Regions from separate parts of the Homo sapiens genome. Here region 1 is linked to region 2. The links come from fine-mapping of genetic effects on gene expression. A gene starts in region 2. The other region holds a variant in brackets. All regions are shown on one strand. Distances are from middle to middle.

Region 1 (2,907 bases), 24 kb before region 2:
TATTGCAAGGGAAACAACTATATTCAAAGGCTTCATTTCTAATACTTGACATTTCAAATTTTGAGAACATTAAAATTATTGTCAAACAAAACTCAGACCACATTAGCAATGTTTATAAAAGGGAGCAATTTAATCATTATATTACAGAGTGCTTTAAGAAGTTTTTAAACGTGTAAAAGAAAAAAAAAAAGCTTAGTGCATTACGGTCTTTACATTGCTTCTTTTTTAAAAAAGTTAACAGTAGTATGAAAAAAGCCACCCACAAAGCCAGCTGTCTGAGTGAGGAAATCAGCTACATTGCAGCATTTTGGAATTACTAATAAAGCTATAGTTAAAAAATAAAAAGTTTATAAAAATGAAAGCAGCATGCATATTCAAGGCTTTTTCATAACATTTTCAATGGCTGAAAAACATTTAACCAAGAGCTTAATATTTATTATCCATTAAATTAGAGAAAATAAACTGGCTAAGCCTACATCTGGTCATTCAGAAAAACATGTTAAAATCCAAAGCTAATTAAACTGAACATTTCTTCTACGAAGAAAGCGCATTTTGAAAAATGGTCCTATGGTCACAAAAGAAAGGGTTCTTCCCAATATGAATGAACAGCACCAGTCTTTACAAAGTTTGTAAATTAGTATGAACTTTCAGTCTCCTGATACGGCAAGAGTTAACAGTTAACACTCCCATGATTCATAAGTGAAAAGCTAACTTTTAACTCATTATGATCAGTTCAGAATTTTTTCTCTATTCACTGAAACTGTTATAAAATTTCACTGAAAGATAACTCTTAAAAATTCTGATCTGACACCTGTATAAACATTTCTGATTTCCACGATTGTAAGAAAACACTAAGTATACATTTACTACGTGATTCTTTTTCACATTTTTGGTGCAGTATTTATTTCAAAGCTTCACCCTATCCAAATTACCATGTCAGTTTCTTTTCCTTCTTCAGAATTAATTTCCTGCAGTTTAATAAAAAGCAAATCAGCTTCTAATGGAACAAGTAACAGTAGAAACAGTGGTATTCATGGATGTGTTTAATGAAGGATCCAATTATTAAGGGCCAGTGAAACCATAAAATCTTATTGTTTCAACATATATAAATAGGCTGTTTTTACATTTGAAATTGTATAAGCCCATGCACAACTTTTAATCTTAGTGCAGGGTCTGATAAATAAGACATAGTAATAAATCAGG[G/GT]TTTTTTTTTTTTTTTTTTTTTTACCCATTTCTAACAATTTTTACTGTAAAATTTTTGGTCAAAGTTCTAAGCTTAATCACATCTCAAAGAATAGAGGCAATATATAGCCCATCTTACTAGACATACAGTATTAAACTGGACTGAATATGAGGACAAGCTCTAGTGGTCATTAAACCCCCTCAGAAAGTCTAAGATTCAGAATGTCTCCATCATATTAGAAGAAAAATGTACTGTATTAAAATTTAAATTGCATTTTTACAAGTTGTTTTTTAATTAGTGTTCTATTTACATTGCAGAACTTCCACCAACTGCAGTAGTTTAACTTTGGCACAACATTAAGTTCCATTTCTTTTGGGTATTGGATCCTGCTTTTTGAGTGTGTATGCCCCAAAACGTTTTCAATGTCATCAAAGATTGGGCAAATTCACAGTAAATCAGACATCTTGAGTTGAAGAATTGATTCTCCTTCAACGTTTTAGGCAGCTAAAAAAGAAAAACATCATAAAAAACTGAAAATTTAAAGAAAACCATATTTTAATTTTTACTACTTTTAGAAATAAAAGTGAAAATACATCTTTTGTATTCTCTTGAGATTACCTGCCACATATGTCTTCCATAATACACTAGGCTTTGTGTGCAACTCATCTATGTATATGTTCTTCATATGCTAGATTTGCTTATAAACATTTATCATCTTTATGTAATAATTTATTTCAAACTGTATGAGCAGGGAGTATATATTTCATTGTCAGTATCTGTAATAAGCAGACTATGAAATCTAAAGACTTGTACTTTTTTCTATTTCTATACAAGGTGCAAAAGATATATATGTACCTCACTTCCTGTAATAACTATTTTGGGAAGGTTTTGGTAACTTTTTTGGTAAATTGAACAATATTTAAATGAAGAAATAACTATTTAGAGAAGGCTATGGTGAATCCTCTTATAAGTGAAAAATTATTTTACTCAGCCAAGGATAACTTGATGTTTCAGAAATTTAGACTTTTGTGTATTTAAAAAGGCATGCTTCTATGCTATCACAAAAGTATATAATATGGTTTGGCTCTGTGTCCCCATCCAAATCTTACCTTGAATTGTAATTATTAAGGGACAGTGATACCACAAAATCTTATTGTTTCAACATATGTAAATAGGCTGTTTTTACATTTGAAATTGTATAAGCCCATACATAACTTTTAATCAGGGAGTGTCGGGGGAGGGAGCCTGGTGGGAGGTGACTGAATCATGGGGGTGGACTTCCCCTCTGGCTGTTCTCATGATAGTGAGTGAGTTCTCAGGAGATCTGGTTGTTTGAAAGTTGTGTGGAACATCCCCTTTCGCTCTCTCTCCTGTTCGGTCATGGTGAGATGTGCTTGCTTCCCCTTCTTCCCCTTCGCCTTCTGCCATGACTGTAAGTTTCTTGGGGCCTCCCAGTCATGCTTCTTGTTAAGCCGGCAAAACTGTGAGTCAACTAAACCTCTTTTCTTCATAAATTACCCAGTCTCAGGTCGTTCTTTATAGCAGTGTGAAAATGGACTAATACAGTGCATGTATAGCATACATCATACAGTCTTTTGAAAACTGTAGTTTTAGGATGAATTTTCTGACCAGAATTAGTATCCATTACAGTGTTAATATATAACATAAGAATTATCTATACAAAATTAAAGGTCAAACTAAACTGTACAGAAAAATTCACATTA
Region 2 (2,907 bases):
CACACCCCAAACCAAATATTCACTGTTCCTGGGGGGAGACTGCTTCTTCCTCCCTAACCGTGAACCGCTGTATATTTTCCAATTTTGTGATTTTCCTTTTTCTGCTATCACATTAACCTCCAAGAGAACTGCTTAAGTTACATGGAATCCCAACCTAATCACATCACGACTTCTCTCTCAGCCTTTACATTTTTCTCTCAAATATTAGCTCTTCGCATTTTTTTTTTTTTCTAATAGCTGGGCTGAGTTGACAGAAAAGGGCTGTGGAATTCCTGCTCTGTCCGATATCTTCCCTGTATTCCTCTTTTCTCATCCCTAGTCTCTGTTCTAATTCCCCCGCCTGCTGTCTCTCATTGACGCCTTCCCAGCTGCTGGATCCTTCACTAACCTAAGCTAAGGATATCAAATGGAATCTTTTCCTTCTCAGGGGCTATGCTCTTTCCTTACAGTTACCCACGGAGGAGAGAGGACAGGAAAGGTACTAAAACAAAGAATTGCCAAGTCCCTTTACCTCCAACTTTGGTGTAAATATATAAGGAAAGGGGATCTGCCAGGGCTCTTCTTTCCTGCCCTTAGACCTTGTTCCTCTCACACCTCTCCTTCCCAGCCTTTTATACCCCTTGAGGTATTAGTAGATTGTTCACTGTGGGCCCTAAGGCTTGGAGGATTCCCATGGGTCAGCCCCCACACCCCCACGCCCCTACCATCCTCTTTAATTAACTTCTCCCTAAATCCCAGGGCTTCGTCACAATCGTAATATGGTTCTTAAGGACTCAACTCCCAGTCTTTCCCAAAGTTGGGACATGGCCTGGCCCCGAAACGGGTGCGCATAGCCTTCCTTGAACTGGAGGTAAAGACTTCTCCTGAAGGGTTTGCTGGGGCTCCAACCTCAGTCAGTGCGCTCAGCTCCAGCAAGAGAATCTCTCCTTACTCTCAGGGAGACTGGGTCCCCCACGAGGCAGCCACACGCCCCCGGAGGACAGCGCTCCTGACCTCCTCTAGGACTCCCAACATTACTGGGGTGCTCCCTCCGGCGGCGCCCTCCGCTGGGAATACGCAGTCTTCACTCCTCTCAACAATCCTAAGTTGCTGGGTCCTCACCAAGGCAGGGGGCTGAGATGTTCCCTCCAGAGAGCCCCCCGCCCCCAAGCTCTTTCGGTGGCGGAGACACCCAAAAAGAGCGAGGGAGGCTGTGGGTCTGTCTGTCCCTCTGCGGCGACTACCCAGCCGCGAGGCAGGCCCCGTCCCTCCCCCTCGGACGCCCCACGCCGGGTCCACCCCGCCACCCGCCGCCGCGAGCGGGCTCAGCCCCAGGGGTCTCTGCTGTGAGGCTGCCCTCCTCCCGCCAGGCCCCGCGCTACTCGCCTTTCCCGTGCCGGCCGCGGACTCTGCGCTCCAGTTCCCACCCGCAGCCCAGAGTCTCCGGGCCCGCTGGTCGCGGAGCCGGCTCGCGCCACTACCTGCAGGGGCCGCCGCGCCTCTCAGCGCCACGCCGCCGCCATCTTGCATTTCAAACCGGCTGCACTTTTCAGGGAGTCAACTCTGACCTGTGAACCCTAAACCCGGAACCGCTCGGCGGGCCCGCAAAGGGGCCTCAGCAGCTCGGTGGCCCCGCGGAGTGTGGGGACTCAGGGTGGGGGTGCGAGGAGAGGCGCGCGCCCCAGCGGCCGTCCGGGGGCGGAGGGGGAAGGGAGAGAGCCGGCCAAGGCGGGGCCCTCCCGCGCGCGCGTCCTCCGCGCGCCCCCACCCCGTGCGGCGCCGAGCTCTCCACGCCCAGACCCTGCTACTCCACTGGGGTCCGACCCCGGCCCCTAGTCCGGGGATTGGCGCACCGCGGGAGGTAGGGAGGCGCCCCGCCCCCCTGTCAACAGAAGCCCCGCCCCAGACTGCGGAAGCTCCGCCCCCTGTCAGGAGACGCCCCGCCTTCCCAGGGCTCGAAATGGCCCCGCCCTTTGCCTGCGACCGCTCCGCCCGCTGTGGACTGAAGCCTGGTCTTCTCTCGGGTCAGCACAGAAGGCAGCCCCGCCTTCCTTGCGCTCCGCCTTCCTAATGTCACTGCTGGATCGTGAGAGGTAAGCATGCTGGCTTCTACTGAAACGCCCCTTGTCATCACACGCCCATCCCCTGGGGCGACACGACCCAGGCCCCGCCCCTCGGGGGGCTGCTGCGAGTCCGGCCGGGAGCCCAGCGCCCTGACAGAAGTCGCCGCGCCCCTTGTCAGCGGCAGCTCCACCTCTCCTCGCTTCGGACCCCGCTCCTCCGCGGGCCGCAGCTCCACCCGCTGACACCGAAAGTTCAGTTCAGCTGCACTCAGAACCGCCGGGCAAGGCGGAGCCGCCCTCTGCCCCTCAGCCGCCCTCCTCCCTGCGAACCGCCACTCGCTCTTCCAGAGGCTTCTGTCCGAGTCGAGGGCTTCACATCCCGTCGGCTTTCAGGGAACCAGCCCCGCAGCGGGGCCAGCGAGGGCCAGGGGTTTCGGGAACACTGCCCGGCGTCTCCGCCCCTCCCTACTCACTTTCCCTTTCCCCCGCACCGCGGTCAGAACGTGGAGGAACAGAACCAAAGCGGAGAGCGGCGACTCACCCTCCAGCTGCTCCACACGCCGGGCCTTGGACGCTCGAGCGCTCCTGGGCCCCTTGACGTTCACTCCCCACCCCCATCCCAGTCGCGGACCCTTTGTGCAGAGCTCCGCTGAGCCACAGTAATCCTAAAAGCACAGCAGAGCTCCGCTGAGCCACATTAATCCTAAAAGATGCAATTGCTTCAAGTGGAAGTCTGATTTTTTTTTTTTTTTTGAGACGGAGTCTCGCGTTGTCGCTTAGGCTGAAGTGAAATGGCGCGATCTCTGCTCACTGCAACCTCTGCCTCCCGGGTTCAAGCGATTCTCCTGCCTCAGCCTCCCGAGTA

What was found. PIP is the estimated chance that this variant, and not a neighbour inherited with it, causes the effect.
Region 1: its variant is fine-mapped to the expression of ZHX1 in whole blood (INTERVAL, PIP 0.94).

The regions. Positions count from the first base shown.
Region 1 is chr8:123,248,634-123,251,540 of GRCh38, forward strand. The region is part of intron 2 of ZHX1-C8orf76 (ZHX1-C8orf76 readthrough); the gene reads right to left. It overlaps ZHX1 (zinc fingers and homeoboxes 1), which reads right to left. Exons shown (of 4, transcript NM_007222.5): 4 at 1-1,687. Among named protein-coding and RNA genes, the nearest start is that of C8orf76, 8.7 kb to the left of the region's middle. RefSeq lists an enhancer at 2,412-2,621. The variant G/GT (reference allele first, on the strand shown) is at 1,204.
Region 2 is chr8:123,272,757-123,275,663 of GRCh38, forward strand. It overlaps ZHX1 (zinc fingers and homeoboxes 1), which reads right to left and starts at 1,530. Exons shown (of 4, transcript NM_007222.5): 1 at 1,461-1,530. ZHX1-C8orf76 (ZHX1-C8orf76 readthrough) reads right to left here and starts at 1,530. Exons shown (of 6, transcript NM_001204180.2): 1 at 1,461-1,530. RefSeq lists silencers at 787-1,154, 1,191-1,390, 1,591-2,280 and an enhancer at 2,761-2,880.